Linked DNA regions of Homo sapiens. The protein of the gene in region 1 interacts with the protein of each later gene in a pairwise test. Each region holds a gene or a part of one and is shown in the gene's direction. Other genes may lie near its edges.

Evidence for each region.
Region 2: the proteins of ERCC3 (region 1) and CEP76 interact in binary tests that used the Homo sapiens proteins (3 or more experiments, as listed by UniProt).
Region 3: the proteins of ERCC3 (region 1) and XIAP interact in binary tests that used the Homo sapiens proteins (3 or more experiments, as listed by UniProt).

The regions. Positions count from the first base shown.
Region 1 is NC_000002.12:127,259,961-127,263,292, reverse strand, and holds part of ERCC3 (general transcription and DNA repair factor IIH helicase/translocase subunit XPB), read left to right. Parts: intron 1-1,946; coding exon 1,947-2,065; intron 2,066-3,332. UniProt on the Homo sapiens protein: ATP-dependent 3'-5' DNA helicase/translocase. Binds dsDNA rather than ssDNA, unzipping it in a translocase rather than classical helicase activity. Component of the general transcription and DNA repair factor IIH (TFIIH) core complex.
Region 2 is NC_000018.10:12,692,614-12,696,268, reverse strand, and holds part of CEP76 (centrosomal protein of 76 kDa), read left to right. Parts: intron 1-917; coding exon 918-1,015; intron 1,016-3,655. UniProt on the Homo sapiens protein: Centrosomal protein involved in regulation of centriole duplication. Required to limit centriole duplication to once per cell cycle by preventing centriole reduplication.
Region 3 is NC_000023.11:123,901,531-123,905,185, forward strand, and holds part of XIAP (E3 ubiquitin-protein ligase XIAP), read left to right. Parts: intron 1-3,655.

The DNA.
Region 1 (3,332 bases):
TGCTTGAGGATTGGAAGAAGCAATATCATTAAAATTGCCAAACTGCCCAAAACAATCTACAGATTCAACACTATTCTATCAAATTGCCAACATCATTTTTCACAGAATTAGAAAAAAAACTTATAAAATTCATCTGGAACCACAAAAGCACCTGAATAGCCAAAGCAATCCTAAGCAAAAGGAACAAAGCCAAAGGCCTCACAGTATCCAACTTCAAACTATGCTACAGGGCTTACAGTAACCAAAACAGCATGGTACTGGTACAGAACAGGCACATAGACCAATGGAGCAGAATAGAGAGCTCAGAAATAATGCCATGTACCTGCAGCCAACTGATGTTCAACAAAATTGGCAAAAATATGCAGTGGGGAAAGTACTCCCTATTCAATAAATGGTGCTGGGGAAACTGGCTAACTGTATGCAGAAGGATGAAACCAGACCCCTGCCTATCACCACATACAAAAATCAACTCATAATGGATTAAAGATGTAAATGTAAGACCTCAAACTATAAGGATCCTCGAAGAAAACCTAGGAAATACAATATTCACAAAGTTGTGCAACTATCAACACAATTCATGTTTAGAATATTCTCATCAGCTCCCAAAAGAAACCCTCATCCATGCACAGCCACTCCTAATTTCCTCTTGTTCCCAACCCCCAGCTCTAGGCAGCCCCTAATCTACTTTGATGTCTGTAGGCCTTTTCTGGACATTTCATGTAAATGCAGTCAGACCACTTGGGGCCTTCTGTGACTGGTTTCTTTTCACTTAGCATAATGTTTTGTTTGTTTGTTTTTTGGAGATGGAATCTCGCTCTATCGCCCAGGCTGGAGTACAGTGGGGCGATCTTGGCTCACTGCAACCACTGCCTCGCAGGTTCAAGGGATTCTCCTGCCTCAGCCTCCCGCGTAGCTGGAATTACAGGCATGAGCCACCACGCCTGGCTAATTTTTCTATTTTTAGTAGAGATGGAGTTTCACCATGTTGGCCAGGCTGGTCTCAAACTCCTGACCTTGAGTGATCCACGCCCACCTCAGCCTCCCAAAGGGCTGGGATTACAGGACTGGGTCACCACACCCGGCAGCATAATGTTTTCAAAAAGATTATCTATATTGTAGCATCTGTCAGTACTTCATTCTTTTTTATTGCTAAATAATATTCGATTCCATGGACATACCACATTTTATTTATCCACACATCTGTTGATGGACATTTGGGCTGTTTCCACTTTTTGGCTCTTAGAAGAATTCTGCTATGAAATTCATGTACAAATTTTTGTGTGGATATAGTTTCATTTCTCTTGGATTTATGCCTGGAAGTGGAATTGCCAGGTCATGTGGTTATAACAGTGTGTTTAACATTTTGATGAACTGCCAGACTGTTTTCCAAAGCAGCCGCATCATTTACATTCTCAACAGCAATGCATGCGGGTTCTAGTTTTTCCACATCCTTGACAACAGTGGCAGTTATCTGCTTTTTTGATTGTAGCCATCCTCGGAGAGGGGCGTGAGGTGATAATCTCATTGTGCTTTTGAGTTGCATTTCCCTGGTGATTAATGGTGTGGAGCATCATTTCATGTGCTTACTGGCTATTTTTATATTGTTTTTGGAGAAGTAATCTGTTCATATTCTTCTCTCATTTATAATTAATTTGTCTTGTTGTTGAGTTTCAACAGTTCTTTGTATAACCTAGATACAAATCCCTTATCAGATATATGCTTTCCACATTTTTTTATTCTGAGGATTGTTTTTTCACTTGATGGTGTCCTTGGAAGCACAAAAGACTTCCAAATTTTGATGCAATCCCATGCCAAGTTCAGGTGGTAACCCCGAGTGCAGGGCTTTTCCACTCCAGTGCTTGCTTTTGAGCCTGGGACCCTTAGCTCTTGGCATTCTAATGGCTAATGTTGTCTTCTTTATTGCCGTTTCTCATTTTTTCCTGCAGGGATGGTTGCAGAAGAGTACAATGCCTTTTTCTACTCACTGGTATCCCAGGACACACAGGAAATGGCTTACTCAACCAAGCGGCAGAGATTCTTGGTAGATCAAGGTTATAGCTTCAAGGTACATATCCATTTGGCTTCTGGTTAGACTAGGACCAAGGCCTTCTTGATACCCTGGCCTCCAGGAGAAGCGAGGGCCACTGTCAGCAGGCAGGCACCAAGCATTAGGAGATTAGAGGCCTTGCCTCAAACTCCCTTTATCTCTGCATGAATCTCTGAGGGCAGCTGTTGGTGGAAAGTGTGCCGTCCTGGCAGGACTGAGGTGCCATGGCACTATGACCAGCACTGTGTGAATCTGAGCCCCGCAGGGCTGCTTTCTCAGGGATGCCTCTCTAGGTAGCTAGGAGAGCTCTTCCTTTCATCAGCTGGTAAGCTCCAGGCCTTAGTTTGCCTCAGTTTGCCTCCCAGACATCAGAGCTATCCTGTACTACAAATCAGGTATTTTAATAATTGGGAAATTCTAAAGCTTTGGCTAACTTTCACTGGCTGAGGCATTTGCTTTCTTTCCTGTTACACAAATATTACGTTTATGTCAGTATTTGGTGTCCAGAGGGCTTTATATTTTGGGGATAGATGGAGGGTTCTAGAAGTAGGGGAATTAAATTCCCCCTATGGTCCACTAAAAGGACATCCCTAGAACATTAGACTCCCAGGTTCTTGATTGCAAAAGACTGCAATCCAGGCTGCCTTTTGAGATACGTTTTTAATGTGTCTCTTTATGCATTGGTGAGAGTTCCCATTATTGGCCTTAGGAGGACAGGGTTGTCTGACCTTCCCTCTTTTAGCTAGAGGCAGTGACACTTCAGACCTCTCATGCTGGCCTAGAGGACAAGATGCTTGGGTTTTGAGCCCAGTTTTTTGGAGGATTTGCATCATGACCTTTTTATCCATCCATGAAAATCCCTGTTGGTAATAGCATTCCTACCTCCTGATTCCTGCCGAGCTGTGAGGGTAAGAGGAGCACCAGGTCAGAAAGAGCAATTCTTTGAAAGGTGACCTCGACAAAAAGGCACAATGCCATGCCGTAGTAGTTTGTGTTGGTTGGAGCTGTGTCTTCGGTGCTGCCTGTTGAGGAGCAGTGGTTGGAGTTCCCAGAGTCATGACGTGGAGTGGCTGGGCCTGGGCAGATGTGCACATCGTCTGTACTCTGGATCCCTGGCCCAGAAGGACTCAGATCCTTACTTCTAGGAATTTTCATTTAATGAACATTATGAGAATTGGAGGGAAGGAGAATTCCCTTTACAGAATCAACCCAAGTTTTCTGCAGGGATAGGGAGCCCTTGTAGTAAGTTATCCCCATAGAAATGAAAACCCAGTCTCCACCATGC
Region 2 (3,655 bases), on another chromosome or scaffold:
CCTCCCAAAGTGCTGGGATATTGGCGTGAGTCACCGCGCCCAGCCAGTAATTTAGATTTTAATAAGTCATACCAAGAATGTATTTTTCTTTAAATAAAAATTATAGAAAAAGTGTCCTTTATGTAAGAAATTTATTTTCAAAAACAATACCCAATTTGTCTTCAAAAATAGGCCTAACATGATAATCGTAGCAGTGACCTGGAAACAAGCAGATTCTGATTCACTGAAGAAACATTAAATCGTTTTGATGTGAAGTATATTTGTTTTCTAGTTCTTTAAATCCAGGCATGGATTGAAAATTTCTACTCAGCCTGTAATTGGATAATGGGGAGTGACAAATGGGAGTTACTATAAGTGACAATATAAATGCTTTCTAATTTTTAGTGTGTGTGTGTGTGTGTGTGTGTGTGTGTGTGGAGAAGGAATGAGGTGTTAACAGTTGCTTTGACTTTGAATTTAATGTAAGTCTGGTTGATATTATACATTTAATTAAGACAAAAATTAAGAGTCTCAAATCCTTTAAGTCAGAAAAGTTTCTTAAAACCTGTTAGAAAAGCCAGGTGTAGTGGCTCATGCCTGTAATCCCACCAAGCACTTTGGAAGGCTGAGGCAGGAATATCACTTGAGCCCTGGAGTTTAAGACCAACCTGAATAACATAGGGAGACCCCATCTCTACTTAAAGAAGAAAAAGAGTGTCAGAAAGCTAAGAAAATAATCTCCTTATAATTAAACACCTTTGTTTAAAAAAATTGATTTGGTTCATTTTAATATGAATATTAAAGGTAATGTTGAATGTTATCTTTATTCCATGTAAGTGATAAAACACCCAAGTGCCTAAATTATTTTGGTTAGACTTTGGTTGACTAAATATATATAGTATTGAAATCTCTGAAGTTCAAAATATTTATGTTTATAGGCACAGAATCAAAAGTTTCTGTGGGAATTTTAAATATAAAACTTGAAATGTATCCACCACTCAATCAAACGTTATCTCAAGAAGTAGTGAACACACAGGTAAATACTTATGAGTTTCTCTTTTTTTGTGTGTTTGTTTTCATAGTAGTATATTTACCTGTTGATCCTAGAAAGCACTCTATTTTTAGAAAATTACCATTTATTACTTTCTAGATTAGCACTCAAAGGTTCACAAAAAGGATGAGGAAGAAAATAAAGACAAGATTGTTTTCCTAGCAGAATCTGTAGTCTAGTTTAGGAAATACGATGAACATTTATTGAGACAGCATAAGAATTACAGGATAGGCCGGTGGCTCACGCCTGTAGTCCCAGCACTTTGGGAGGCCGAGGCGGGCGGATCACAAGGTCAGGAGATCGTGACCATCCTGGCTAACACGGTGAAACCCCGCCTCTACTAAAAATACAAAAAAAAAAAATAGCCGGGCGTGGTGGCAGGCACCTGTAGTACCAGCTACCCGGGAGGCTGAGGCAGGAGAATGGCGTGAACCGGTAAGAGGAGCTTGCAGTGAGCCCAGATCGCACCAGTGCACTCCAGCCTGGGCAACAGAGCAAGACTCCATCTCAAAAAAAGAAAAAAAAAAAAAGAATTACAGGATAAAGCTGAAGAAGATCAAAGAGTAAAGTGCAACCTCAGTGGGATGGGATTTTAACGTTCTTTCGCAGGCGTTTATTGAAAGCTTGCTGCTTATGTCTTTTCTGCTCTGTTCTCTCAGGGTAGAAGTGCTTGCCACTTTTAGAGTGTGTTTGGAGAGGCTTTTTTCCCTAATTCCACTGTCAGGTCTCTGATGAATTACTTTCTTCCTGGGTCTTAAAAGATCGGCAGATTTTTTCATTCCTTCACATTGGATTTGCCATCCATGTTTAGTTCTTGCCAGTCTTTAGTTTGGAGGTTCTCATTATCTGCTGACTTGCCGGGATGGCACTTGTGGAATGGTTCTCCTTGATTACATACACCACCCTTTACTCCACCCTGCCTGTCATATTGTTCCTTTTACAGACCTGTGGTTAGACGCTAGTGCTTCTCCCTCAGGCAAACAATGTCCTGCCCTGTTTTCTTTAAACTTTTTTTCCTTCCTTTTGTAAACTCTCATCTCCCTCTAATCTCTAGCTTCTGACATGTGTCATGGGTGGTATATATACCTGAAACCACATAGTGAGAACCAACTTTGATGTTACTCAAATAAATACCCAGCCCTGTGGGAGGCTAAGGTGGGTGGATCACTTTTGAGTCCAGCAGTTTAGGACCAGCTTGGGCAACATAGTGAGACCCTGTCTCTACAAAAATTTTAAAAAATTAGTCAAGCATGGTGGTACATACTTGTAGTCCCAGCTGCTTGGGAAGCTGAAATGGGAGGATTGCTTGACCCAGGAATTTGAGGTTACAGTGAGCTGTGATTGTACCACTGCACACTAGCCTGGGTTACAGACTAAGACCCTGTCTCTTAAATAAATGGTGTATACACACATATACATTATGTGTATACGTGAGGGGTTTTTTTGTTTGTTTTTTTCAGACAGAGTCTCGCTCTGTCGCCAGGTTGGAGTGCAGTGGCGCAATCTTGGCTCACTGCAACGTCTGCCTGCCGAGTTCAAGCAATTCTCCTGCCTCAGTCTCCTGAGTAGCTGGGACTACAGGTGGGTGCCACCACGCCCAGCTAATTTTTGTATTTTTAATAGAGACAGGGTTTCACCATGTTGGCCAGGATGGTCTCGATCTCTTGACCTCGTGATCTGCCTGCCTCGGCCTCCCAAAGTGGTATACATGAGTTTTAATCATGTTATTCATATATTTATGTGACATATAAAGTAAATGTTTGGGCTCTACTTTTTTGGGGTAGTAGCTTGTTTTTTTTAATTAAATTTTATTTTTTTAGAGACAGCATCTCACTCTCTCAGGCTTGAGTGCAGTGGTGTGATTATAGCTCACTGAAACCTCAGACTCCCAGCCTCAAGCAATCCACCTGCCTCAGCCTCCCAAAACATTGGGATTGCAGACATGGACCATTGTGCCCCACCAGGTTCTCCTTTTTAAACTTAACATTATTTTATATGTATTTTCTTATATTTCCACTGTCATATTTATAATTTCTAGTGACTAAAACATAAGTTTATTCTATTATCTGATAAATAAATTGCTTCTAATTTTCTCTTTAAAATTGCACTATTAAAACTTTTAGCCAGGCTAATTAATCTGTAATCCCAGCACTTTGGGAGGCCAAGGTAAGAGGATCACTTCAGGCCAGGAGTTCAAGACCAGCCTGGGCAACATAGGTAGACTTCATCTCTACAAAAATTTTTAAAAATTAACTGCACATGGTGGTGCATTCCTGTAGTCCCAGCTACTGGGGAGGCTGAGGTGGGAGGATCGCTTAAGCCCAGGAATTCGAGGCTACAGTGAGCCATGATCATGCAGTAGCACTCCAGACTGGGTGACAGAGCAAGACCCTGTCTCTTAAAAGAAATTAAAGTCAGAAATATGTATGGATCCTAAATAGATGTCAAAATGTGCTAGACACTGTTCTAGACACTGGAGATGTAGCTGTGTATAGGGCAGCAGACAGCTAGACAGCTTGCTCTCAAGGAGTTTAGATTCTAGTGCAGGAGAAACAATAAGTCAGCAAACAAAATAATCAGATAGTAGAAGGTGTTTTATGGAGAATTATTACAGGTGATATGATA
Region 3 (3,655 bases), on another chromosome or scaffold:
AAAAAGATGAGAATTCTCCTACTGCTAAAAAAACTTAAACGTTTACTTATTTTTGACGCATTTAAGATCCTTTTGATCTTTAAGATATTTCAAGTGCTTTTGAAACACTATTCAGATAATCGTATAAGTTATGAAACAGTATGAACATTAATGATATTTAAAATTATATTCATTGATGTAAGAATCAATGGAAAGCTTCCAATTTTTTCCTTATAGATGCATTTATTTAAAACTTACACAAGCTCCACTTATCTTGGTGGTGGTAAAATAAACCCTTTAATTGTCATCTTTCTTTCTTTTTTTAATTTTTTATTTGTTTTAAGACGGAGTCTCACTCTGTCGCCCAGGCTGGAGTGCAATGGCACGATCTTGGCTCACTGCAACCTCCGCCTCCCCAGCTCAAGCGATTCTCCTGCCTCACCCTCCCGAGTAGCTGGAATTACAGGCATGTGCCACCACGCCCGGCTAATTTTTTGTATTTTCAGTAGAGACAGGGTTTCGCCAAGTTGGCCGGGCTGGAATTTTTCTACTATAACAGAAACACAAGCAATTGTGTCATTTTTTTCCTGCATCTTAAACACGCGCTTAATTGTTTGGCCATAAATTGTTAGTTTTCAAACCTTAATGTATCTGCAGCAGAAGGGTTTAGCAGGTTGTAATAGGAAGAGATCAAGAGACTGTGCATTAGGGAGAGTGTCTTTTCTCTATCTAACAGGAGTCAATGGGCGCTCATATTATCACTGAGACTACAAACTAGGATGGTGTGGGAAGGAGAGCCTAAGGGTTGGAATTCATTTGAACTCTCCTCAGTCTCACTAAATTGAGAGGCAAGTAATTGATACAGGCTCTCTACTCATGCTGGGACTGCTGCCTATTTGTCTTCCCAAAAGCTGATGAGGAAAGACTGGCACTAAGAATCTTTTAATTTTATATAAAATAAGGATGGGGCTAACTGAAGTGAAGCAGGTGAGGGTTATTAGAGAAAATATAACATTGTCACTTACTGAGAAATCCTAGATTTAGTGCTAAACTTTTTTGCCAATGGCTGTGTAACAGAGAATGCCCTAGTAAAAGGTCTTGTAAAAATAGTACCGAATCAGTATCTTTTTTTCTTTCTTTGAAAAAATTATGTAGTGTAAGATAAAGCCCTTTATTTAGTATATGTACTAAAGTACTTATTTTAATCTTTATGTGTATATATATTACTGTATATAATATAAAAATCAAATAACCCATATTCATTTCTTATCTGTCTTTCCATATGAATCTGCTCTAATAGTAAAATGAATAACATCAGTTTATTCTAGAAGAGGTTTTAAATAATTACAAATATTAGCAAATAACATCAAAAGTTATCTAGCCTTTATTGCTCATGTGCCAGTAACCTTCTGACCTAGAAGAGGGCTTTGTGGGGAGGAGAAGGGGAAAGGCGCTGTAGAGAAGTATGTAGAATCCAGTAGTTACCTTTAAGCCAAGAGGGAAGTAATTGCCAGTGGTAAACTACTGGTCTGAGGGGAAAAGATCTATGCCCAGAATATCACCATCTCAAGTTAGTGGCTTTATACAAGGATGAAATAATATAGAAAAAAATGAGATGATATGGTATCACAAACAATCAGAACCAAAGGAACCTTAAAGATTATTTTATAATTTTTTTTTTTTTTTTTTTTTTTTGGAGACGGAGTTTCACTTTTGTTGCCCAGGCTGGAATGCAATGGTGCAATCTTGGCTCACTGCAACCTCCACCTCCCGGGTTCAAGCAATTCTCCTGCCTCAGCCTCCTGAGTAGCTGGGATTATAGGCATGTGCCACCACACCCTGTTAATTTTGTATTTTTAGTAGAGACGGGGTTTCTCCATGTTGGTCAGGCCGGTCTCCAACTTCCAACCTCAGGTGATCTGCCCGCCTCGGCCTCATAAAGTGCTGGGATTACAGGCATGAACCACTGCACCCAGCCCATTTTATAACTTTTATGACCTTAATTGGGAACCTGAAGTACAGATGGGCTGTTGCCTAGGATCACGCCGATAGTTGGGAATAGAATTCAGATTTCCTGACTTCTGGTCCAGTGTTTTGGGGTTTGTTTCAGTTTTTTTTTTTGTTTTGTTTTTTGTTTTTTTTAGATTTTAAAAAATTGTGATAAAATACACATACAGTTTACCATCTTAACCATTTTTAGTGTATGGTTCCGTAGTGTTAAGTACATTTACATTGTTGCACAGTCAACCTCCAGAACTCTTCATCTTGCAAAACCGAAACTCTACATCCATTAAACAGCCAGGCGTGGTGGCACACGCCTGTAGTTCCAGCTGCTTGGGAGGCTGAGGCAGGAGGATTGCTTGAGACCAGGAGCTCAAGGCTGCAATGAGCTGTGATTGCACCACTGCTCTCCAGCCTGGGATACAGAGCAAGACCCTATCTTTAAAAAATAATAATAATAATAAAAACATGTTCATTAAACAACTCCCCATTCCCTCTCTTCCCAACCCCTGGCAACTACCATTTTACTTTTTGTCTCTATAAATTTGACTACTCTAGGTGTCAGTATTGTTGTTGCTTTGTTTGTTTGTTTGTTTCTTCCTTTTTGTGGAGAACGGGGTCTCACTATATTGCTCAGGCAGGTCTCGAACTCCTGGGCTCAAGCTATCCTCCCGCCTCTGCCTCCCTGAGAGCTGGGATTATAGGCGTGAGCCACCGCGCCCAGCCTGTTTGTTTGTTTTTAACTCGTTGTAGCATTACATCTAAAAGTAATGTGGAAATTACTTGTTCTCCTTTTGATTTTTTTGGCATGAAATACACACTTCATTCTGACTTTTTTTGGTGTTGATGCTTTCTTATAATATAAATCAGCTTATAGTGCCGTTTCTTTACTTGTATTTTTTCCTCTGCCTTGAGTACGTTTTCTCTATCTGTATACCTAGTCCCATTCCCCACTCTACCCCCAACTCCCTGAATCTACTTTGTGAACTCATGTTTCAAGGTTCAGCTCAGAAGTCACTTCTTTCAAGTTTTCTCCCGCACCCACAGCAGAGTTAGGAGCTCCTTCTTATCTACTCCTGGTGCTGGTAGAGTTTTGTTTTGTTTTATTTTGTTTTGTTTTGTTTTTCTTGAGACAGGGTCTCGCTCTGTCGCCCAGGCTGGAGTGCAGTGGCACACAATCTCAGCTCACTGCAACCTCTATCTCTCAGGTTCAAGCGATTCTGCTGCCTCAGCCTCCCGAGTAGCTGGGATTACAGGCATGCGCCACCACACCCAGCTAATTTTTTTTGTGTGTATTTTTAGTAGAGATGGGGTTTCACCATGTTGGCCAGGCTAGTCTTGAACTCCTGACCTCAAATGATCTGCCCGCCTCAGCCTCCCAAAGTGCTGGGATTACAGGCGTGAGCCACCAGGCCTGGCTGAGCATTTTGCTTTTTACACTATTTTGGGACTGGTTTCTGCCCTGCCCATTAGACCAAGCTTCTTAAGGGTAAGTGCTTTATCTTCTTATCTCTGATGCATTCCATGTTTGAGCCTATAGTTTTTATTATGCCCAAGAGGGTACTTTTTAAGAAGAAAGAGATTAAACAATCCTTTCCTCTACCCCCTAGCCAGAGAAACCTTTCTGAGACATAGATGTGATCATATCTGTCTCTAGTTTAAAACCCTTCACTGC